Regions from separate parts of the Homo sapiens genome. Here all the other regions are linked to region 2. The links come from fine-mapping of genetic effects on gene expression. A gene starts in region 2. Each other region holds a variant in brackets. All regions are shown on one strand. Distances are from middle to middle.

Region 1 (5,105 bases), 890 kb before region 2:
TTTTTAACTCAACAGAGGCAAAATAAAAAATAACTTTTTGTGAATATTAGTAACGACAGTGAACTAAAAGCTTAAACTTGAAATTTAGTGTAAGCATACCGTGCTAAAGGCTAGGCATATGCCCACAACCCTGTTTTACAGAGTAGTAGAAAGTTTCGTGTCTTAACCAAGGCCGTATAACTTATCAGTGATAAATAGACATCCAAAACAAAACCAATCCGATTCAGCCTTTGGGACCTTCCCGATTTCCCTGGGGCATTTGTAGGAAGCATAAGTAAATCTTTGATCCCAGTTACCCAGGAGGCTGAGGTGGGAGGATCGCCTGAGCCCAAGAGGTCAAGGCTGAAATGAGTGGTGGTCGTGCCACTGCACTCCAGCCTGGGTAACAGAGTGAGACCCTGTCTCAAAAAAATTTTATTTAATTTTTGAAATCGATTCACTTTTTAAAACCCATTTTATACTCCCAATCACCAATTTAAGCAAATAAACTGACAGGTGTGCAGGTGTGGATGCCTTCCTTCTTTGCAAACGTCCTGGCTATACTGCTCCCTGCTCTGTAGACGTTGTCTCCTGCACACAGTCCCAGCTGCTAAATCTGCAAATGAAACCAGGATTCTAATGATTTGTTTTCTGTTTTCCTTAGAACGAGACCAAAAGTTCAATACAATGGCTATGCTGGGCATGAAAACAGCAATGGACAAGCATCGTTTGAAAACCCCATGTATGATACAAACTTAAAACCCACAGAAGCCAAGGCTGTGAGGTTTGACACAACTCTGAACACAGTCTGTACAGTGGTATAGCCCTCAGTGCCCCAACAGGACTGATTCATAGCCATACCTCTGATGGACAAGCAGTGATTCCTTTGGTGCCATATACCACTCTCCCTTCCACTCTGGCTTTACTGCAGCGATCTTCAACCTTGTCTACTGGCATAAGTGCAGCGGGGATCTCTACTCAAATGTGTCAGGGTCTTCTACGGATCAAACTACACATGCGTTTTCATTCCAAAAGTGGGTTCTAAATGCCTGGCTGCATCTGTATGAAATCAAGGCACACTCCAGGAAGACTGCCACGTCGCGCCAACACGTCATACTCAATGCCTCAGACTTTCATATTTCTGTGTTGCTGAGATGCCTTTCAATGCAATCGTCTGGGCTCGTGGATATGTCCCTCAGGTGCGGTGACAGAATGGTGGCACCACGATATGTGTTCTCTTGTGTTGTTTTTCCTTTTTAAACCCCCATGAACACGAATACTCTGAAAAAAATAAAAAGCTTTCTGGAAGAAGACACCTTTCTGATAGAGGCTCACACCTACAAATGCTTCACTCTGTCCTTCCGAGACCTGACAAGCTTTGAGGACCTCACAGCTCCCCTGTGTGTTCATCTCTAGGGATGTTTGCAATTTCCCAGTCAGCTGTTCTGTCGCAGAATGTTTAATGCACAATTTTTTGCACTAGTGTGTTATGAATGACTAAGATTCTGATAAAAAAAATAAATTATTTACACAGGGTTTATACACACTATCCATTGTATATAAGCATTATTTCATATTATCAAGCTAAACATTCCCCCATCAGCTTAGTTGGAGTGTTAGGGAAAAGTATTCCTAGATATGGCACAGATTTTAAAAGGAAATACAGTATTGAAGAGATTTATTTTATTATTGCTTCAATTAGCTCCATTTACGTGTTGAATTCATTGAAGAGGTCCAATGAGAAAAAAACAGAAGCCTCCTTATTTCACACGTTTTCCTCCTTTAGTACCATCCTCATCCAATTACTGTCTCTCTGATACTACTTAATAGCAGGGGGTTTGCAGAAATTTCTGTTTGCCATGTAAAACTGTGAATAGTAATTTATTTTAGATAGTCGATGAACTTGTGGGTTTTAGCTCACAATGCAGCCTTCCCTTTTGCAGTGTTTTTTTTTTGTTTTTTTTTTTTTTTGTCTTTTACTGTGCCATCGATCTTTGATATTGCATTGAAAGACAATATACCACAGTAGCACCTTGAACTCAGTGAAAATTGTTCAGGATCAAAATACCAAGTGTTCTTTTAGAGGGAAGGAAAAAGTACACACACTCTCCTCTCACAATGATATATTTTATACATTCATTTGTTATTTGTTTCATGCTTTATGATTCCAGATGGAAAGGTAATTTCAGTGACTTTTCAAGTTTAAATTCCATTATAGGTAAATGATAAGTTATGATGCAAATAAAATCTATAAGATCCCCAGGGCAAATAAAAATCAAAACATGAAGTAGAAGATGTGGCCGTGAGGTAGTTTATGTAACAAATTCAAAGTGAAAATCATGTTTACTTTTACTTATACTTATTTGATAAAAATATTTTTGAAACGATAGTACTTATTTTATTATTTGATATTTCAGTTCCTATTCAATTGTGGCAGATTTTCTCTGTTTCACATTTTAGATTGGCGTTGGTAATAGAAATGTCAGAATGTTCAAATTGGCCTTCACGTTGTCGGAGTGAACACATTGACACCTAGCTTTAAGACTGATTTATCTGTTGGTGTACTGAAGGTTTCCATGTAGGACTTCAAATGTGGAAAAGGAAAAGCAGTCAGGAAAATGGGGCATTCTTTGGAGAGTCACGCGTTTTGATTCGGACATTTCCGTAGAGCTCGGCTCCCAGTGTTGTGTTCCTCGGTCGAAAGGGTCTCTGCTGTTTGGGGACTCACTGGCCTCTCCTAGGGACTCCTTTGTCTTGTGAACCCCACGCTGTTGGATTCTGTATCATTATGCTGAATTCTCTGCACAGTTTTCCCTGGCCAACCTGCCCACATCCTTGGAGATTTGCTTTGCCAGTGGGAATCCTTACATTGCTGTTTCACAGTAGACGGGACGAGGTCAGCGGGAGTCGTGCTCCTAACACACACATTGAACGAAACAGAAGATGATTGAAAGTGTGAGGAGGCTCGTGTGCAAGGGAGAACAGGGTTACTATACATATTAGTGTATATATATACATACATATATATATATATATATTGTACATATCTAAGTTTGAGTCATTCAAACTAGGTGCAAAATGCTGACTTCAGAGTCTGAATTAACATCTCTGTTCCCATATCCCTGACCTGCTCCCTGGTCAACGATGCTATGAAATCCTGAAATGACAGGACATACATACATACA[A/TACAA]GAAACCACATATCAAATTAGATATGATTTTCCTTTGTGTGCAAAGTCAAACTGTCCTAGGGTTGCCAGTTTGAAGCATGTTATTTAAATGAAAAAAAAAATCAGTGAAATTCTCGTGTGAGAATTCTGCCTAGTTTCTTCCTAAGGTTGTGTGCAGTGTTGAACGGCGTCTCCGCAAGGTGTTGGAGGATCTCATTTTAGGGCAGTCAGGAGCTGTGCTTGCTGAGTTAGGTCTAGAAGACTCTTCCCTGAAGGCAACGGGAACACGCGTGAGGGACGCGACCACACACTAACAGAGGACACGTGCTTCAGAGCTGTTTAAAACTGCTGCTTGTTTTACACACACATCTTGCCTTTTTTCAGGCTAGCTGCAATAATTTTTTTCTTCTGTAAAATATTTTGTAAACAACAACAAAAAGCTATTATAAAAAGGGGGTAAAAAAAAGAACGCTGGCATTATGATCAGGAAAACCCATTGTCATCGCCGACCCTCCCTCCCGTCCCACCACACGCTGCTGTCACGACGTAGGTGCGAAAGACCTTTTTGTACAGAGATATATTTTTTATGAAGAATTTGTAAAATTATTAAATATGCTGTAATTTTTTGATTAATGTAGGTACATTGTTAAAAAATAAATGTTTTTACAATACAGAACTGTAATTTTCCCAATAATGTAAAATGTACCATCTCTAGCTGATTTTCAGTTCCAATCCTATTACACATGTATTAATATTAAAGTGGCCTGTTAAAATGAACAGTATCTTTTTTTTGTCAAAAAAATTATAAAGAGGGTGTAATATAGCCTGTGCAATGCCACCAATCTTTAAAGCAAATCAGAGTTCTAATTAAATATTTAATTTTAGATTTCTATTTTTCTGTGTGAATTTATTTTCACTTTAATATGCGCACCTGAGTCCCTTGCAGGGGAGGGAAGGAATGGGAGTCTTCATAATGAGCCTTTAGGATATTCAAAATGAAGCTCCATATTTTTCCCACGACATTCACATCATCGTCATGATTAATCAATAGCACATTTAGCAGGAACCATGAGACACAGAATAGTAACGTTGAAGCTGACAGATTTCTTGATGGTTCACATTAAAAACGGTAAGAAAACTTGGTTTCCTCCAAACCAAAACCTATGTTTTTTTATGATTTCTTTTCAATTTGGGAGCTCTGTTTGTAAACGTTCACCACACTAAAAAAATGACATGAAAGAGAATTATAGACCTACTTAACAGAGCACTCCAAATAACACATTTAAAGAAGGCTCAAAAAAATCAAACCGCTTTTTAAACTCAGAACCAGCGGTCCCCCGTTCATTTCTGGGCTGACAGAAAACACAATGCTTTACACGTCCTTGGTGGCCCATCACGCCGAATGTCTTGCAGTTCAACAGAATGATACACTACTTTCTCTGAGAGTCAAGTTATTACAAAATGAAAAACAACCAATAATATTTCCAAAATAGCCCACGGTGGCTTCGCAGCGACCAAGTTTTGATGTCCAACTTGCAATCTGAGTCTTGCTGGCCAGCAACTGCATTTAGGTGCCATTTATTGAGGAAATACCGAGCGCGAGACACTGCACTTTGTGACTCGCAGACGTTGCAAAACCCCCATAATCCAACCGAGAGGGTTTTGCCACTTTGATAATTTAGATGAAGAAGCAGGAAGTTAAATAAGTTGGTTGGTTTACCCAACGACACACAGATAGGCAGAGCTGATATTACAGGTCAGGTTTCTCTTGCTTCAACTTTCTCATTTTTCAAGAAACCGTCACATTATGAAATGCATCCAATATTCCCTTTCTTATCCAATTTTTTTTCTGAATTTTTCTGTCATTCTACCTGTGAATCTTCTTTTGCTTCATTGAGTAAATAATTACCAAAGCTAAGAATTCAAAGGGAAATAAGTACTCTCTATTACTAATTTTCACAT
Region 2 (5,105 bases):
CCAGCAGACGCATGAGCAATCCCCAGTACCTGCTATTGCAGCAGGGGCTCATGTGTCATCACAGTATCTACTTACACTTATGTTGAGTTAAACCTCAGATGTGTTTGTATTTCTTGGTAAAGGGAAGAGTCAAAATGTGACCTATTAGGTCAAAGGAGAGAATGAGCTACATTGAAATAAGAGGAGAATCGCCCTGGATGGAAATCCTCCTCCTTAGACCTAAGACCTGGAAGAATGTGAAACGGCTCAGGTCTTGAGAGCTCACAGACTAGCTATCCTTCAACCAGTCTGTAACGTCCTGTCCAATGCAACCTATGTATCACTGACGTGACATCCGGTCCTGTGGGCCTGGAAGTCTTCAAACACTTCATGTGTGAGGGGCTACACTTTGTAGTGCTTAGCAAGGCAGAGCTGGGATCACGTGTGCACACTTCCTGCAATCCTCACTCCAATGGTACCTTACTGTGGAAGTCTCCCCGGGAAGTCTTTGGATGGGGGTAACAGGGCACTTTGCCACGTTTATCCCCACATGTATTCCCTGCTCACTTCATGCTCAGGACCACCAAAATCAGGAGGTGTCAGAGGCTTTGCAGAATCCATCAGCCTCAGTTGATTCCACAAGTATGGGGTCACTTGCAACGTGCCAGCCAAGCCTAAATCAGAACCCTTGGATTTCAACAATGAAAACACCTTAGAGCTCCTGGCTCGGGAGAGTAGCAAGCTCAAGTCTTCTGCGCATTTGACTCCCAGTGCCAATGTGCCCTCAACTCCACTTTTATCAATCACATGCCCAACCCAGAAAACCAGCAGGACTGCACGTCCAGCCTCACCCACCCTGAATGTGTGTCCCCTCCGCAATCTCTTCACTCCTTGGGGGACTTCCTATGTTAGAACTTCCCCAGTGTCCCTCACCCAGCCTGGGCCACCACCTCCTGGCCGGGTGTGATGACGTCTTTGCAAGCAAATCCCCACTGACTCAGCACGTGCTGGGTGCCTGCAGCCCTGGCAGCACAGGGCCCTTCTGAGTGGAGGGAACCCTGGAGAGGACTTGCCAAATGCACCCTACAGGTGGAGCATCCCTTATCCAAAATGCTTGGACCAGAAGAGTTTCCAATTCCCGATTTGTTTTTCAGACTGTGGAATACTTGCATTTATACTTACTGGTTGAGCAACTCAAATCCAGAAATTGGATACTTGAGATGCTCATGTAAGCATTTCCTTTGAGAGTCATACCAGCGCTCACAAAGTTTCAGAATTTAGAGCATTCTGGATTTCTGATCTTCAGATTTGGAATGATCAACCTGTACTATTTATGACACTATAAAGAAAATGACAGGACCTGGGCCGATCAGCTCCCCAATGTCCCTCTACTGTCTACATAGAAAGCTGTTTTCCTTTTTAAGGAACTATCTCAGACATGTGTTAAATACCCCCTACACACACCAACCAAAAAAAAAAAAAAGAAAAAAGAAAGAGAGAGAGAAAGAAAGCAGCTTTTCCTCGCAGGGTAGTTTTTGATGTGAGTCCCTGGGGCTCAGGCGCATTGGGAGGCTGAGACTCCAGTGGGGACCTGCTGACCTTCAGCTCAGGGGCCTCCACCTGCTCTGCTGTAAAACAGGGGGCTGAGTGAGGTGGCAGCTAACAGTCCCCCAGCTTGGACAGCCTGTGTGTAGATAATCCTGGCGCCACGCTGTACTGTTAGCACAGACCGTCCCCAGGGAAATATGACTTGCCCGGGTCACCGGTAGGGCCACGGCCGAACCCAGGCGCCAGCTGACTCTCCTGACAGCGTCCAGCCCACTTTCCACCACAGCCCAGCTCCCCGGCCACTCCCGGAATGCTCCTGACACGTTTAGGAATCATGACACCAGGATGAAACGCGAGCCTCTCCTCCAGTGCAGGGGACCACGTGTCTGATATCCCCATCCTAATTCCTTCCTGCAAACAACGTGTGGAGCCCATTCCTCATGTCACCAGGATGGGTTTTAATTTGCAAAAATGTTTGAAGTACAAAACATTGACTTCCACTTAATGAAGGAAATTGTTTGTACAGTTAAAAATGTCAAAGTCAATAAATACACCAAATTAAAGCTTTCTAGAGGGGAAAGGGACTCCCAGACACGCAGCGTTGGCCTGTGCCACAAGTGGCTAAGCCCTTGGCTCCCAAGACAAGTTTTAGCTTGGGACTTGGTTTATTAAATAACGCCTTAAATTATCTTTGTTCCACGCTTTCTTTGAGTCCTGTTTTACTTCTACTTAGTAAGAAAGGAATGTGAAATGGAGAATTAGAAAAGGCCAGGTGTTCCCAGTGATGGCAAACCCCTTCCTTCCGTTTGCCTCCGGTGCCTTCCACGTGCAACCACCCAGCCCCACTGTCTTTCTCCAGCAGGTTGCATTTCAAGAGCACGCCCTGAGAAGGCACAGCCTCTATCAGCGGAGTGGAGCTGAAGAAGTCTGAAGGGTCACAACACACCCAACAGCACAAAGAAGAAAACAGCCGTAAGAACGCTGTCATTTTTGGGCAAAAACTTGCAAGTCCTGACAAGGATTGTTCTCTTTCCCATACCGTGGATAATATAGGCTAGGTCTAAGCTGAATGACCCTCGACTCTTTTTTCCCTTAAGAAAATATCCAGTTTTATTATTTCACACCTTTATAAGTCAGCCCTCTCCTCGGGGGAGGCTTTCGTTTCTGAGAATCTCATGAAACTTGCAGACATCAGTCCACTGACTGGGGGGCCCCCTGGGGCCACGATGAGACCAGGGCTAAAACCCAAAGCACACGCCGCAGGGTGCTAAACGGCACTTAGCAAAGACCACGGCTGTGGGAAATAAAATGTTAGTTGAGCATAAAACCTCGTCAAAGAAATACAGATCCCAGAACTAATTGCTCTGTTTTCCACAGTAAAGGGTGCCTGCGACGGGGTGCACTGGCTCTCTCTTCTTGACCCTGAAGTAGAGGTACTTAGAAAATGTGAGTGCAGAAGTTACCGGTCCTCCCCTTAAAGCCACAAATTAGAAAAGGCAAGAAGAGAAAGACACTTACCCAGACAGAAAGGAAAATTGCAAGGAGGAGAGAGAATTCCTGACCACCGGCTCACCAAGCCACCCACACTCCAGCCGAGGAAGGCAGAGCTGACTCCTGCAAAGCAAGCGCCTGTGCCTCCCTCCCGTTTAAGGTCTGAGGAGCTACTATATATAGACGCCTGGGCCTGCCTCTCCCCACATCAATACCCACATCGTAAATCACCAGCCTGACCTCAGGAGGAAAAGCTTCTTGTTCAAACTGAGGGCGGGGGAAATCACGATTCAAAACTGGAACGTGTCCTTTCTGAGTCCCAAACTGCACTTTTCCCAGGAAACCGGGTGTGACACTTCAGCCCCCGACCCAGAAAGAGAGGGCAGGGCACTGACTTCCCACGCTCCCTCCCCGCAACTCTCCTCCATGAGTTCTAATCCTTACGTGTGAATTCTCAGACATATCTTCAATCCTTTCGAGCTACAGGTTCCCTGGCTCACAAATTGCAACTCCTGAATGAGTCTTTAATAATGACATGGATTTCAGTGAGCATTTGTGCCATTCGCAGGCCTGGACACCCGAGTTGAGGTCGGCTGTGGAGGGAGGGAGGTGCACAAGCCCCTGGGTTTGTGAGCGTGTGTGTGCATGTTCGTGTGTTTGTTCGTTTTTTTTTTTTTATTTCAAGAACGACTCAGGTCTTCACTCGATTGTATCTTAGGGCTATTTTAGCAAGAACTGCCTACCCAAAAGAGGAGCGGTGCCTAGTCGGCAAGTCGGGGCTTATTTATAGCCATTACCACAGACGTACACTGCGTCTACACCACACGGATAATTGCAGGGTGCCCGTCGTTTCGCACAGCGTGTGTCCAAATATAGATAACACACACCTGGCACGGTCCTGGGCTGCAGCCTGGCCAAGAGGCGGGGCCTCAAGGGGATGCCCCCATCTGAGGACCCGGAGAATCACACTCCAGCTGCACCTCACCACAGGGGCTGAGGACTTCGGCCAGCTGCTCAGCCCACGGGGGCTATGCTCCCCAGCTCTAAAACGCATGGAATAACAACTTTCCTGTAAGTTTGTTGTGACAAGTAGAGAAAATATGATAAGAGAATTGCCTTAAGAAACTCCACGTTCTCACACTGGGGTATCAGAGGCACAGCCAAGGACCAGCGAGCAGGTGGATGGAGGCGAAGATCAGATACGAGAAAGACGCGAGCACAGCCTCTTGCTGGGCCCCAGAGCGTTCTGGATGCTGGATCAGGAGGCGAGTGTTTCTGTCTTCTTCCCCTTCGTATTCTGATGGCCTAGCATTTAATTTAATTAGTGTTTGTTGAGTGATTTCTTAGTCTATTCAGGCTGCTTTAGCAAAACACCATAGACCGTGTAGCTTATAAAACACAGGAGCTTCTTTCCCACAGTTCTGGGGACTGGAAGTCCAAGATCCAGGTACCAGCAGACACTGCCTGGGGAGAGCCTTCTGGTTCTGGGACGGCGCGGTCCCTGAGTCCTCACCAAGTCAAGGGGCCAGGCCGCTCTTGGGGCCTCTGTATGAGGATACTGATCCCACTCGGGAGGTTCCACCTCCATGACCTTGTCACTTCCCTAAGGCCCCACCTCCTCACACCATCGTTTTGGGGGTTAGGGTTTTAACCCACATATTTTGGGGGGGTTGCAAACAGCAAGACCAGAGCAAGCAATGTTTACTTCCGGTTTATCAGCATCTCCTTCTCTAGCGAATCCATTTCTCAGGGACCTGGGGGACTTCCCTTCAGCCCTTCTGCCCCCCTGCCTCTGAGTGTGGCCGACACTGGAGGGGCAGTGATGGTGCCTCGTCCCCTCAGGTGGCATCTCAGTCCTCTGAGTCCCAGTCCTGGCATCTCAGTCGCCTGGGTCCCAGTCCTAGCATCTCAGGAGGGGACAATCTCATCCCGGGGAGGGGCCTCTCCTGAGAGAAGGAAGGGCCAGCACACTCCTCCTCCTTTTCTGACATTTCACGGTGGCTGTGCCCTCCTTCTGTGATATAGAAATCCAGTGCTGCGTCTAAGAAAGCCTGGATCTTTCAGCCACACCACCCAGAGAGCAGAGT
Region 3 (5,105 bases), 95 kb before region 2:
AGGCGGGCAGATCATCTGAGGTCAGGAGTTAGAGACCAGCCTGGCCAACATGATGAAACCCTGTCTCTACTAAAAATACAAAAATTAGCCGGGCATGATGGCGGGTGCCTGTAATCCCAGCTACTCGGGAAGTTGAGGCAGGAGAATCGCTTGAACCCAGGAGGCAGAGGTTGCAATGGGCCGAGATCATGCCATTGCACTCCAGCCTGGGTGACAGAGCAAGACTCTGTCAAAAAAAAAAAAAGAATAAAGGGAGGGAGGGGAGGAAGGGAGGAAGGGAGGGAGGGAGGGAGGGAGGGAAGGGGAGGGGAGGGAGGAAGGGAGGGAAAGAAAGTGAAGTGGCCCTGGGTGTCTGGGCTGCAGGTTCTGCAAGGGAGGAGGGAGGGAGGGTGTCCAAGGGGTGACGGGGCTAAGGCCGAAAGCAGTGCAAGGATCAGTGGTGCAGGACATGGGGCTCCAGGACAGGGTGTGGTGTTGGTGGCGTTGTTACATCAGGGTGGGGGATTGCTGGTTATTATTTAATACACAAAGTTGGTCCTCCAAAATATGGACACTTTTGCCCCACCCCAAATAATTCACCATCCTGGTTACAATCCAACAGGTACTTACTCTTCTCTGCAAAAGCAGCAGCTCTAAAAGTTAAAGGGGACAGAAAGGAGAGAATGAAAAGAGAGTATGAGAAAATGCTTCCAACAAAATGCACAGCTGAGAGGCTCACTAGCGATGAAGCAAAAGAAGAAGGAGATACGTTTGCATTCTCTTAGAAGAACATGTTCGGGTCACAGGACCCCAGGATGGATATCACTGATTTTTCCTGATGGTTCCCACTGCCCATTTTGAGGTGGAAAATGCCCTATTATCCAGATGCTAAAACCCACAGAAAAGTTTAGCATTCCAGCTCACAGGTTGAAGAGATTTTTTTTTTTTTCACAAATTCACTAGATTGCACTGGAGACTTGAGATATTTTCGGAATTTGTCAGTTTCTGATCTATCTTGCTCATCCCTGCACCCAGTCAACAAATGTTCATTAAATAAGCTAGCATGGGCCAAGGACTGCGGTCAGCTTCGGATGTGCGAAGACTCGATGGTGCATTTGAAAACCCCGAATTGTCCTTAAAAAGTTGCTGTGTGTGATGTGCTGCCCTGATGATGACTGGCAGAGCAGCAGCACCGCCATCTTGGACTAGCATCGCCATTTTAAGTCTTCCTTGATTAGAAACCGCCTAAGTCCAGCCCAAAAACATCAGCTTAAGGGCTAATGTCAGCATGGCCATAAACCACAAATGACACCTCCGACCAGAAACATACCAACCCTGGCATAACCTGCCCTCCAATCAAAAACATTCCAACCCTGAGATAAGCTCCCCTCCAACCAGAGGTATTCCAACCTCACAATAAAACTCTCCTCCACACAGAAACCTTCCTAGCCTGAGCCAGAACCCTTAAATACCCTTAGTCTGTAAAAGAAAGCGCTCCTGACCGAAATCGGCCAAAAGCCCCACTCAGGTTTATTCTCCAAAATAAACCTGTCTTTGACTGTTAATCTGCTTTGCGTGTTTCTTTTCTCTTTCTTCAACTCTCACAATAATGATTTCCGAAATTCATCCGGGGTTCCGATGACTCTGGACAGTCCGTTTATAAATGCATTTCTGGTTTAGGAGAATGCCCACCCCTCCATATACTGCATTGCTTAAATTCCCACTTCTGTCCCAGGAATGGCTCTTTCTTTAGGTCACCCAGGCTTCCATACAGATTCCCACATGCAGCCAAAACGACTGGGACTCAACTGCCCACAGGATATCATAGTAACTAAATACACAAATCTTACTTGAATTGCTGGAATTCTGCAAATGCTTCATCAAAAGCTGTGAGGAAATAGTTCATACGTTACTAACCATTTCAGTGTTCAGATTTTATTTATTCACTCAAATATTATACCAGTGAATCTGGTTCATGAAAACTGATATATAAAAAAAGAATAAATTTATTTTTTCATTTTCTCTAAATGAAAATTGTAAATTCATATTGTCTCTTGTATTCATATTGTATTCCCTCCCTTCAGCATCTAAATGGATTTCTAAATAGGAAATTATTAAATGCTAAAGAAGAATTCTCTTACCTTGTCCGGACAGGTCAAGGGAGCGTTGATGGTTGTCTTTGCCATCGAAAATCTCAAAAGTGTATTTTCCTTTATCCTTCTCAGTCGGCTCACATATCTGCAGCCAAGCCATCTCTTCACTCCCCCCGATTCTCATATGCTCACTGGATGAGATCTTAGCATCTCTTGAAAAGAGCAACAGGAACGTATCTGAGTTAGGGTCTCCATGTCACACGCACAATGTCTACAGGGCAATGTCCCGTTGCTGTGACAGCCTTCTCTAAGCTGCTGATGCCAATGTCACAATAGATTATTCTGGCTGTTACGAATGTATTGACCACATCAGTAACTCAGATCTGAAAACTTTCTAAAATTAAATGATACTTAATTTTTAAAGGTATATTATTATGTAATATATACTTGTCACGACATAATGGACTTAACATTACTCTATATAGTATGGTAGTTCCTCAAAAAATTAAAGCTAGAACTACTACATGATCCAGCAATTACTTGTGTAGATCCGAAGAATTGGACACGGGGTCTTGGAGAGATATTGTCACACCTACATCCTTCGTAGTATCGTTCACGAC[C/T]GCCCCGGTGGGGAGGCAGCCCAAGCGTCCATTGGTGATGAATGGATCAGTAGAATGTGGTCCATAAATACATGAGGGAAATCCCAACACCTCCTGCAATGTGCATGAACCCTGAGGACATTTTGCTGAGTAAAATAAGCCTGTCACAAAGAGACAAATATGTACTCCTATGAAGGGCTTAGGGTAGTCAGATTCACAGAGACAGGAAGTAGAACTGTGGGTACCAGGGGCTGGGGGAGGGGAATGGGGACTGAGGGTTTAATGGGAACAGAGTTTCGGGTGGGAGGATGAAAAGGTCCTGGGTGGTGGTGGTGCCTGCACGATGATGTGAATGTACTTAACACCACTGAACAGTACCCTTAAAGGTGGTTAAAATGCTCACTTTTACATTATGTGTATTATGCTACAATATTTTAAAGTTTAGATAAAAACAAGGTGCTCATACATTCCCGCCTTCTAAGGTTCCACATCTGCAACATATAAGGCCAAACTGTTTACTGCAGACAAAAGTGTATAAGTTATTTCCTAACATTACTTCAGTTTAGAGGGAGCCTGAGAGATCTGTGGAAGTCATAGTCACAGGTGCATGAAAACAGGACGGACTCCAGGGCCACCCAAGAGCTGGAATGTGGACCTGTTTCTCTCGGGCACCAGCTCCAGAACAGCCGCAGCTTGGGGAAGCAGGCTGGGTCAGTTGCACAGAGAGCCAGCTGTGGTGCTTGTGGCATCTTTCCTTACCCTTGCCGGCAACCAAGAATGCCTATGTTCCATCGGGAAAGGGAATTCTCCAGCCCTCCTCACCATCATAGCCTTTTTCTCTGTTATTCTTTCCTTCAACAAATATATGTTAAGCCCATAATAAATGCACAGCTCAGGCCGGGTGTGGTGGCTCACACCTGTAACCCCAGCACTTTGGGAAGCGAAGGCAAGAGGAACACATGAGCCCAGGAGTTGGAGACCAGCCTGGAAAACAAAGCAAGACCCTGTCTCAACAAAAATAAAAAAATTAGCCGGGTGTGGTGGCAAGCACCTGTAGTCTCAGCTACTCAGGAGGCTGAAGCAGGAGGACTGCCTGAGCCCGAGGAGGTCAAGGCTGCAGTGAGCTGTGATCACACCACCGCACTCCGGCCTGGCCAACAGAGCGAGACACTGTCTCAAAAAGTATATATGTAAAAATAAATGCTTGGCTCTGCGTCCCGGTCTCTGGTGGTGGTGCTGGCAGTGTGTGTCGGGTCTCTGGTGGTGGTGCTGGCAGTGTGTGTCGGGTCTCTGGTGGTGGTGCTGGCAGTGTGTGTCGGGTCTCTGGTGGTGGTGCTGGCAGTGTGTGTCGGGTCTCTGGTGGTGGTGCTGGCAGTGTGTGTCGGAACTGAGTCTGTCCGGATAGAAAGTGGGAGTTCTGTGAAGGCACAGTGGGATCCTGGCGCACACTAAGCCAGAGAGGCCGAAATGGCTGTTCCCAGGGATGGTTTTGTGGGATTGGCTTCACCCTGAGACTTAGCCTCTGGGATCCCGGACAGAGAAGGGAGGATCTAACACTGCCCATGTGCGGTTGTTTTAGAATCCAAGAAGACATGCTCAACATCTACTGAAGCGACTTTGGAACATAACTGACACACATTTGTCTACAATAATCAGGTTGGCCTCACCTGTTGCCGATGTGGGAGCGAGTTCGTGCCGCCTTAGAAGGCAGGGCAGTGTGAGCACTTTGGTTCTATCTAAACTTTTAAAAACTGTGTTAGAATGCACATAATGTAAAAGTGACCCCTTTAGCCCTTCACAATATGTTAATTAGCTCCCTTTTCCCATAATCTGCCCCTCCCCGGAAAGAGGCGGGAGAATCGGACCAGGCAATCCTTCAGGAATCTCTCAGTCCCGCATCTGGAATTCTATACGTTGCTGACCTGGGAGCCTCACGAAGGCTGACCCCGCAGCAGAGCCCCAGGCTCCGCCCAGCTGCTCTCAGTCCACAGTCAGCATGGGCTGCCTGGGGAGCAGGAGAGGGAAGCAGAAGCGATGAGGCCATGACCCCAGGCCCCAGCACTCAGCAGCCAGAGCCGGCCGGGCCGAGAGTGCCATGTTTGCAAGCTGCAGGCTGGCGCTTACATTAAAGGCAACACGGACTTGCCAGAGTCTCCATCCGTGGTGTGTCTGAGGGCAGGTGAGCATCAGTGGCCACACCAGCCGTCCTGTGAGCTCACAGCAGGTCGCTATTACTAAAGGGATTGATGGGCCATTGCAGCACTCAGACCTACTCATCCCTGTGTATAAAAGGAAAATTAGACTTTACATGGTGATTCTCAGCTCTGCAGAAAAGAAAAACCTTGCACAGAACATATACCAGGCAGTGGATTAGCCACTCAATCCCAAACCGTGGCGTGTGAGGAGCAGCAAGAAGCCCGTCTGTGCAGAGACC
Region 4 (5,105 bases), 72 kb before region 2:
CACCCCTATGTGGGCCACTACGAGCTATCTCCACGTTGATGCACTCAACAATGATTTCCATTCTTAATAAGGAGCTGCTGTCTTGCCTCCTTCAGTGGCAATCACAGCCCACTCCTGCCACTCCCCCCACTGTGGGCTACCTTCCTCATCTTCAACACCCTCCAACCCTTCACTGGAAAGAGTGTGAAACCAACGGGCTGCACTGATGGATCTGCCGCTTGCTCTGCCCTGGTTTTTGGCATCCCCCCCGCCCCCTCATTGTCCTTCACAGGGAGCTGCCCTGGGGGCCAAGCAGCCCCTTGCATGGCTGTGCTGACCTGGTCTCATCTCCCTCCAGGCCAGCACTGCCCCTCCTGTGTCCCCATGTGCTCCCCTTCCTTCACCTGTGAGTCCTCTTCCACTGACCCCTCTGCCTATAAATAGGATTGAGCGTCTCCATCCAGAAGGAAAGACAAAGCCACCCTGACTCCCCTCGCTCTCCCTCACTGCCAGCTGAGCACCTCAGAGGGCAGCGGGCTCCTGCTCGTATCCCCCCTTGTGTCCCATCTCCTCAGCCCACCACGTAGAGACCCTGCCTTGCCAGGGAGTGGGGTTGGAAAGCCCAGCACCCAGCCCGTGCTGCCTCCAGCTGTCCCTGCTCAGCCGGCCATGCAGCGCTGCCTCCAGCCGCCCCTCCTCACCCGGCCACGCAGCGCTTCACTCCAAAGTCCCTCCCTGCCAGAGGCCACCAAGTCACTTGCTTTCCCTCTGAACTCTCTGAGGGTTTCTGCTTAATAATCCTGGAGCTGGTCTCCTCTTCTCCTCTGACAATCTGAATTTTCCAGAATGCCCCAATTGTTTGTGATGTTCCTGTCTCTAAAGGCTGTCCTTTGGCAGCTTGACCCACTTGCGTCATGTCCACAGCCAAGCATTCCCAATACCTCATGAATCCACACACGATATCTCATGAATCCACATGCTCCAGATGACTTTCCCATTGCTGCCAGGTTCACATGTCCTGTCGTGAGCCGGTTATGCCTTACTGACCATTCCACGGATATAACTAAATCTTTGTGAAATTGAATGTATTCTCAAAACCCTAAAACTTGGCCCTCCCCGTACAGTGCTGATCTCAAGAAATATCACACCCACTCGGTCCTCCAGTACACTTCCCTCTCACCCACACCCAGCTACTTGCCAGCCCCTGCTGGTTTTAACTGCTGGATGTGTATCCTAAATCTCCTTCTCTCGGTGGATATGAAACTGCCCTGCTGGAGTTACCATCTCTCAGCAGCCTACTGAAGCGTCGTCCTCCAGCCCTGCCACCTCCAGCCTTCCTTGTCAACCAGCAGCCCGTGTCACTGCACTAACAGCCCTCAGGTGCTCTGTACCCTCTCAGTCCATGGCCAGCCTCTGGGTCCTGCAGGGGAATGCCCCACTTGCCCACCAGCCTTGGGTTTTTTATTGTTTTTATTTTTAAGTGCACAGTTCAGCTTCTCTGTCCCTCCCTGCTGCTGGATCTTCCTAGAACCATCTTTTCCCACTCACTGGCCTGCATAATTCTTAGTCCCCTTGGCACACGCAGCTCACGAATCATCTCTTTATTGAAACTGTCTGTTTACTTTTCTCTCTTATCCAGTAGACAATAAGAAACTAGTTTGGGAGTAAAAACAATGCATTATTGATCTTTTTCCCCCATCCCCTCATCCTGAGACAGTCAAATAGTAGGCAGTTATTAAATTGAAGATTTGCTGCTTAAAAAACAGATTTTTATATTTAGTAATAAAACATATTTCATTACTACATTGTTAAACGAAACTGAAAGAAGTATCTTGTCTCCAAAGCATGCCTTTCCTTTCCTGATGAACTCGTATGAGCAGCACTTCTAGGTGTATTTCACCAGGGCACACTTTCTCATAAACTCACTTAATAATCGTTTAAGTAAAATTTTTATAATCCAACCTTCCATTGCATCCCACTACACTGTAATCTTTTCGTGAAGAAGAAAAGATAAGCACTGAAGTCCAAGTATTAAAAAGTCCACAGGACCCAAAAGCCACTCCGCCCATCCGCAGCTACACAGGCACCACACGTTTCCTCACCAGCATCACAGATCTGGCCACAGCTACTCCCTGAAAGGCCTCTCTGATAGGAACCAGAATGAGATTTATTGTTTTCCTGTTAGAACCGGGTTTCTCACCTTGCAAACAAGTCGAACTTCACATTCTTCCGTGACATCCCAGTGCAAGTACTCAGCAAAATGAGGGCCTAGGGAGGAAAAAAGGGAAGAAAACATATAAAAAAGGAAAAAGTAAACAAATAAATATATAGCTATTATATATATATACCCACACATATATGCATGGTGTGTATATATAATACATAAGAATGTATTATATATATTTATGTAATGCATTTTTGGCAGAACACAATAGCTGTGGAGGATGAAACTGAGATAGTTTTCAGGCCTGGGATGTCGACACGTGTTAACACTGATTCTCCACTGGAATCTGTGCTTCCTGGTAGGAGCGTACGTCTGATGGCTCCTTCTTACTGACATCTCATATCTATTGCTCTTCAGAAAGGAGGCTATTGAAATAATTATATTTTGTTTCCCAAAGTATATGTCTAACTGAACATTCGACAACATGGTAAATAATACCTTTAAATAAGAGAATAGATATGAGATAAAGAAACAACAGTTTGACCTAGCAATTTTGTAAAACACATTTTCTTTAGATAGCATTCAAAATCAAAGACAGGTTTATATATGTTTTTAAAAAATGTTAATCATTTTTATTTAAAATACATGTAGGAATAAGTCATACACTAATACCCTTTTGCCATTCAATGCAAAAATACAAAGCAGATTTGGAAAGTATGTGT[TC/C]ACTTCTTTCATATACATAAATACATCCTACAAAGTTGGCCCAAAAATGTTCATAATGTAGAAGTAAGTAAAATATTTGTGACTATTAGAAATAAAAACAATGAAAAATAATAAAAATGAATGTTTTGATTTTATGTTTCATAATTCACATTCTAATTTTTCTCAAGAAGTTCAGAAATCCCATATATAAAAATGTTTTTTGAGGCTGGGCGCAGTGGATCACCCCTGTAATCCCAGCACTTTGGGAGGCCAAGGCGGGCGGATCACGAGGTCAGGAGATCGAGACCATCCTGGTTAACACGGTGAAACCCCGTCCGTCTCTACTAAAAATACAGAAAAAATTAACCGGGCATAGTGGCGGGCGCCTGTAGTCCCAGCTATTCGGGAGGCTGAGGCAGGAGAACGGCGTGAACCCGGGAGGCGGAGCTTGCAGTGAGCCAAGATGGCATCACCGCACTCCAGCCTGGGCAACAGAGCAAGACTCCATCTCAAAAAAGAAAAAAAATTCTTTGAATAAACCCTTGGGGTATGTTTGAGAATCTAAAGTGTATCCATTTTCCTTTGTATCTAGTTAACATGTATTTGTAAAAGCAATCTATTTAAAACATATTGTTTGTAGTTAGAAAGTTTAACAGCTCCCACAATCTTAAGTAGAATGAGCAATTTCCTGGTGATAGGAATAGCCTCTACTGCCTTCTCTACATTTCAAAGCCAAATGAAGCCACCACCTCCTCTACCCCCATTCTTTATTCTTTTCATTAAAATTGCTGGACTCCGTCTGGACATTAAAGCTAGAGGCACGCTTTCCTCTTCACTCCCCTGCTATAAAGCAGGTTCCTTTCCTATGCAGTTGGTAAGCCTAACCTCTTAATCATTTAAAACAGCCTTTAGGGTTGCTTGGGATCATGCAAGATCTGCTTCTGACAAATACTCCAATCATCTTTGCTTTATGCTAGGGGCAGGGGAGCCGGTCAGAGTGAGGAAACTCACCTTGTTTCCTGAGAAATTCTTTCCTTTGAAACTCAGCCTCTTCCAGCACAGTCTTGAATGCTAAATTCAATATTTAAAAAAATATATATGAAACATGTTTGCTTCTCTCCAGTCAAAAGAATTTCATTTGAATTATCTTGTATGGACGTGGAAATATTCGATATAGCATACCATCTCCAATAAGAACTAGAGAAGACTGACTTTTGGCTTTCCCATCATGAATCTGCACAGTGTAGGTCCCCTCATTTTCAATACTAAATCGATCCATCACCATCTCAATAATGCCAGTAGCTTTGTCACATTTAATTCTGTGTATCTGCAAGCAAAACAAGGGAAATGGAGAATTATACAAGGAAATCTCTCCTAGTTTTCCCTTGCAACATTTAACAATTGCATCAGCCATGAGATCTCAAGGGATTATGATAGGAAGAAACCAAAATGAAATTTTATCAAGGAAACCTCTGGGTGAACAAGGATCAAACAGTGGGTATGAGCTGTCACTCAGTGACAAAGCCTGGCTGTGTGAGGAGATCTGAGAGTCCAAACCAGGGACCTTCTAGGCAGAGACTCCACACCTACCCAAGAATGAGTTACTAACGTGAAGCAGATAAAATTCACAGGAGAAAATAAAATGATACGCAATTGATATGAATGATAACGATCACCAGCTGATGACAAAAATCCCACATGGATAGCAACAACAGGCAATCTCCACAGCCACTGTCATCTTCAGCTCCCGGGACACAGCACCCACAAGCCCCAGCCTGCTGTGGTCCATCAGGGTGCAGGGGTTTCAGGTGAGGAAAGGATAAATGGACCTCCAACAGGTGTTGACTTTTTTGATCGCTTTTATTTTTTAAATGTTTCATTTTATTCTACAGTACATGCACAGATACATATGAATGTGTTCTATTTAGGTAATCCTACAAGTCAAAGAACAAGTGTTTCTCTAACACACAGATGAATTGAGCAAATTTGATCTTTTGTTTCCCTCTGATTTTGTGATGTTTACTTATTAACTTTTTAACTTCACTAAAACCATTTTCCCCATCTTTATTAATGCTTATTTCTCTTTTTTATGTTTTGTTTGTTTGTTTTTTGTTTTTTTTTTGCTGGTTGCCTTATTTGGGGGCTTGATATTTTTACCTTTTTGTGCTTCTTGATAATTATTAAAGTTATAAATTAATATTAATACTTAAATTTCACTTTTTCACTTAAATAACTCTAATTCTAATGAAACCTTTCAAAA
Region 5 (5,105 bases), 130 kb before region 2:
CGTGTACACAAGGAGGAAAGGCGTCAAGAATTTCCACTCTTCATATTCACTTACACAGTGTTTGCTGTTGTGGCTGTTTTGGTTTTCTTATTTAACTTTTAAGGTCAGGGGTGCATGTGCAGGTTTGTTTCATAGGTAAACTCGCACCGTGGGAGTTTGTTGTGCAGATTCTTTCAGCCTCAGGTATAAAGCCTAGTAACCATTATTATTCTCATCCCCTCCCTCCTCCCTCCTCCCGCCCACCACCCTCCCTGGGCCCCAGTGTGGGTTGTTCCCCTCTGGAGGGTAGAGGGTGGAAGGAGGGAGAGGATCAGAAAAAAACAATTATTGGGTAGTGGCTCAACACCTGCTATGAAATAATCTGTACAACAAACTCTCATGACATGATTTTAACTATGTAACAAACCTGCACATGCACCCCTGAGCTTAAAAGTTAAAAAAAAAAATTTCTTTTTAGACAGCGTCTTACTCTGTTACCCAGGCTAGAATGCAATGGTGCTATCTGCTCACTGCAACCTCCGCTTCCCCAGTTCAAGCGATTCTCCTGCCTCAGTCTCCCGAGTAGCTGGGATTACAGATGCCCACCACCACGCCCAGCTAATTTTTATATTTGTAGTAGAGACAGGGTTTCACCATATTGGCCAGGCTGTTCTCAAACTCCTGACCTCAGGTGATCTGCCTGCCTTAGCCTCCCAAAGTGCTGGGATTACAGGTGTGAGCCACTGCACCCAGCCAAAAAGTAATCACCTACAGGAAAAAAGTAGTGTAGAAGGACCAAAAATCAAGGTGAGCCATATAAAGGTAATAATAATAATAGTGTTTCTGTTATTCAAAATAGAATGGTGTTGACCTTACACACAATAGAGGGAATGCCACATTACAAATCACAACTTCAGTCATTTTGGACCTGTAAAAGCATGTTGCCTTTATCATCTCTTACTCATTAAAAGCACTTGTGAGAACTTAATTGTACATTTTAAAAGAACTCGGTATAATTGGATTGTTACACAAAGGATAAATGCTCGAAGGGCTAGATACTTGTGACAAGCATCCAGACACATATTATTGCATAGAAGCGTCATTCTCCACGATGTGCTTATTTCATCTTTCACGCCTGCATCAAAACATCTCATGTACCGCATAAGTATATACACCTCCAATGTGCCCACAAAAATTAAAAATAATTTTAAAATAAAGACAGTGCATTCCACTGCAGCAGCACACACACAAACCATTTGTGGCTTCTCTCAATGTTTGCATTTGCTCTGCGATGGGAATGTCTGTGCAGGAAAGACAGAGCCCCTGCCCCTGGGCATGCCCAGCCTCACCAAGGAGGGTCAACTTCGAAGGAACAATATTCTGAAAGAGCTCCTTCCCTCTCAAGGCGGCCAAAAGTACATATTCTCCCTATTTTTATTTTACAGAGTAGAGAAATTCTAAACTGGTATCTTTTTTTTTACTGGAAAGTGTCAGTATTGCTGGGGAAGGGATAAAATCCTCACATACAACATTTCACACATGGAAGTTTGAGATTGTGGAACCACTTGTTAGCATCGTATTGGGTCCTCAAAATGACATTAAAATGTAGATTAAAAAGGATTTACTATCCTCACGTTACACAAAACTGGTAAAATAAAATTATTTAAGTGGGAAAATAGTTACTCCAAATTGCAATATGATACTATTTTTCAATATATTCATTGGGAGATCTTTTTGCATTGATGATTCAAATCTGTTCATTTCTAGCTAAATTCTAAAGAGATCCTAATATTATTACCTGATCTTTTTATTTAAAATGTTTAAACAACTTGCTGCTCCTCTAGCATCTACGGTCTACACTATCACATAGAACAGAGATACTCACAGATTCAGGACATAAGGCATGACAAAATCTGCATTTTTTTAGAGAATTAGGTCATTGCATAGCCAAGTCAGTACCCCAAGTCCCTGCCCTTCATCCTCTGGGGTCCCTTCCCTGCCAGGCGCAGGGTTCCAGTGGCAGGTCCTGACTCAGTGGGACCTTTCTCAGCATCTCTGACAGAAGGACTGTCTGGAATTACAGGGCACGATCAATTGTCTGCCTTGCTAGGAAGTCTCATCTGTTCTTATGAAAGCGGTCCAATTAGTCTTTAGTTGAATCGTAACTGGATTTATAACCTTTTCCATCTATTGCTGTTTGGGAGTGGATATCTTCACCAAGTGATTTTTTTTCCTCTCTATTTAATACTGAGGTTACTTACTGGATAAGCAAAAGAGATATTATTGATGAAATGCTCTTGTAGTATATCAGCTTGAGTTTGTCAGCTCAATAAATACTTTATGCCCCAGGGCCAAATAAAAAGAAAGAAATTTTCAAGTTTTTATCGACTATCAAACTCCAAACTGTCAGCTTCTCCTGATACAAATCTATTTTAATTTCAGTTTCTTATGAGTCACTTAGTTTCCCAACTACTGTACTTAAAGTAAAAAGGGGCTATAAGAGGGCACATTGGTGAAATACAATGTAAATAATTTAAAAACCTAAGTGATTACAAAGCCATGGGCCCCAGGTATGAAACACACTCACCATAATTTCTGCTCAGCTGATGACCTCCTGTTCATCTGTTGTCATTAGCAAAAAGCATACTTATGCTCTGG[T/C]TGACCAAGGGAAGTCAGTGAAGTCTTTGACGTGGGAACAGAGAATATGTGTGGCAGCCCTGAACCAGACCTGTGGTGTCTACCTTATGCTACTCTCACGTTAACCAAGCAAGATAAACACCTGCTTTCAGGATACATGGGTGCATCAGGATTACTTAATGCATACTTGACTATAGAAAACAGAAAGTGGGGCCAGGCACGGTGGCTCAGGCCTGTAATCCCAGCACTTTGGGAAGCTGAGGCGGGTGGATCACTTGAAGTCAGGAGTTCGAGACCAGCCTAGCCAACATGGTGAAACCCCATCTCTACTAAAAATAAAAAAAAATTAGCCAGACGTGGTAGTGGGCGCCTGTAGTCCCAGCTACTCAGGAGGCTGAGTCAGGTAAATCACTTGAACCTGGGAGGCAGAGACTGCAGTGAGATGAGATCGCAGCACTGCACTCTAGCCCTGGAGACAGAGTGAGACTCCATCTCAAAAGAAAAGAAAAGAGAAAACAGGAATCAGTCAATAGTCCATGGACAGGATGAATACATCCATGCGGTGCTGTCTTCAGCGACAGGAAATCTTGGAAGGAGAGTTGATCCTCGCTATTCATGGTGGCTGTGCTGTGTAAGTGACTCCCTGAGTAAACTGAGAAAGTACTGATCAAACCCAACCCTTTCAAAGTAGAGAAAACATGACACCTTGCAAAGTCAGAGACAGTCACCAGACGCCATATAAAGTATGTGCGTCCATTCAGCCAGCACAGCTAGTACTTGTCAAGTTCCAGGGACTGTACTGAGCCTCTATAAACAGAAGCAAACAATGTCTCCCCACTCTCGGGGATCTTTCAGTCTAGTGAGAATTTGATGTAAAGTAAAACTTCAAATGGGGATTTGAAATGGTTCCCTGTTAATTTAAGGTGTGATATAATAATATCCATTCAAAACGCAAGGGCTTTTTTGAGAAATATAGACAATATTGTCTGGGATTTTTTTTTTTTCTGCTAAGAATAGCTGACAGACCAGCAGCTGATGCCAACCAGGTGGGGGTACAAAATTCAGTCTTGAATTATCCATGATCTCTGGGAAATTTTCCCACAATTCTTTGACTTTTCTCAGGCTCTTCTCCTAGACAGCAATTCTCCCTCCAATTCAACTTCCCACACATTTGGAGTCTGAGCCACCCTGGGCCCCTCTTCCAGGAGGCCCTCCCGGGTGTCTTGGAGGGATGTACTTCTCCCCTCTCCACATCTGTGCCAGGCTCTGTCACGGTCAGCCGCGCACATGCAGGAAGCCACTCTGCTTCCTGGCGACACAAATGCACGGCCTTCCTCAGCAGCAGGGACGGGGCTTGTTTGTGGGCTTACGCCCCAGCAAACAAAACAATAGCTGGCTCGAGTCCGTGCTTCATGGATGTTTTTAAAGGAATTAAATGGTGATGATATTTAAAGCAGGGGTCCTCAACCCATCAGCCTGAGACGCGACCCTCTAGTTACAGGAAAACAGGCTCAGGGCTCCCACTGATTCTATGTGATGGTGAGTTGCATAATTATTTCAATATATGTTATAATGTAATAATAATAATAGAAATAAAGTGCCCAATACACGTAAATGTGCTTGAGTCAACCTGAAGCCATCCCCCTCACCCCGTCCGTGGAAAAATTGTCTTCCACGGGTTCCTGGTGCCAAAAAGGTTGGGGACCACTGATTTAAGGCATCAGGGAACTGTATGGTTAAGATGTGAGTTAAATTATCACCCAAAGGGCAAGTTAGTGATCATTTTACCAGTGGAAAGCTAAGGAGCCGGCTATGGTTCCCCTCTCACACTGTCATACAGGGGAGGGGAGCAGGGACACCAGCGGGTGGAAATCTCACCTCCCCACAAGGTTCAGCCATCCTCAGAGGCTTCCCCATGCCCCGCAGGGAGCCCAGGGCTCTGCCACACTGTCCTAGCTTCATCTGAGCCCAGCTTTGACCCCTCTCCTCCTCCATCTTTAGTGAGGCTGATGAAGCACCCCTGACATTCAGCCATTCGAGAGCCTTCCATGGATGCTTCGAGGAAGAGGACCGGGATCCGATCAGCTGTTCTCTTCCCATGTCTCTCACCATTCTTTCGTCCTACAAACTGATAGGGAACTCCTCCAAGACATATGTCCCTGAAGAGAAGGAAGAAGCCCTCATTACACACGATGAGATTTGGTTCCTCTCAGGTTATCTTGACCACCTGGGGATGTTCAGCCCCATAGCTAATTGCCTCAAGGAAGGCATTGAAGGGCAAGAGGAGACTTTTGAGGGTCTCCTAAAAGGCACAGTAAAACCCTTGACGGTAGCCCAGGAACCTGGGTTATCGCGAGCCTTCATTTTGACAGTACAGGCACACACGGGACCACAGACATGTCTGTGAGTCCTCTGGCTTTGGAATGACTTCATTTCCTTCATCTAACCACCTCACTCATGGACATCTACCTGACTGAGGACTCCTTAAT

The links. PIP is the estimated chance that this variant, and not a neighbour inherited with it, causes the effect.
Region 1: its variant is fine-mapped to the expression of MYOM2 in ovary (GTEx, PIP 0.99).
Region 3: its variant is fine-mapped to the expression of MYOM2 in whole blood (TOPMed, PIP above 0.99).
Region 4: its variant is fine-mapped to the expression of MYOM2 in liver (GTEx, PIP 0.98).
Region 5: its variant is fine-mapped to the expression of MYOM2 in testis (GTEx, PIP above 0.99).

Annotation. Positions count from the first base shown.
Region 1 is chr8:2,934,283-2,939,387 of GRCh38, reverse strand. It overlaps CSMD1 (CUB and Sushi multiple domains 1), which reads left to right. Exons shown (of 70, transcript NM_033225.6): 70 at 644-4,027. The coding sequence ends at 803. All of the region lies in intron 6 of LOC105377785 (a long non-coding RNA gene), which reads right to left. Among named protein-coding and RNA genes, the nearest start is that of LINC03021, 210 kb to the right of the region's middle. The variant A/TACAA (reference allele first, on the strand shown) is at 3,165.
Region 2 is chr8:2,043,109-2,048,213 of GRCh38, reverse strand. It overlaps MYOM2 (myomesin 2), which reads right to left and starts at 3,168. Exons shown (of 37, transcript NM_003970.4): 1 at 3,046-3,168.
Region 3 is chr8:2,137,902-2,143,006 of GRCh38, reverse strand. It overlaps MYOM2 (myomesin 2), which reads right to left. Exons shown (of 37, transcript NM_003970.4): 33 at 2,121-2,284; 34 at 1,830-1,866; 35 at 610-632. Among named protein-coding and RNA genes, the nearest start is that of MIR7160, 64 kb to the right of the region's middle. RefSeq lists an enhancer at 4,710-5,105. The variant C/T (reference allele first, on the strand shown) is at 2,693.
Region 4 is chr8:2,115,027-2,120,131 of GRCh38, reverse strand. MYOM2 (myomesin 2) reads right to left here. Exons shown (of 37, transcript NM_003970.4): 26 at 4,028-4,172; 27 at 3,857-3,916; 28 at 2,180-2,247. Among named protein-coding and RNA genes, the nearest start is that of MIR7160, 41 kb to the right of the region's middle. The variant TC/C (reference allele first, on the strand shown) is at 2,866.
Region 5 is chr8:2,173,136-2,178,240 of GRCh38, reverse strand. The region is part of intron 1 of LOC105377781 (a long non-coding RNA gene); the gene reads right to left. Among named protein-coding and RNA genes, the nearest start is that of MIR7160, 99 kb to the right of the region's middle. The variant T/C (reference allele first, on the strand shown) is at 2,638.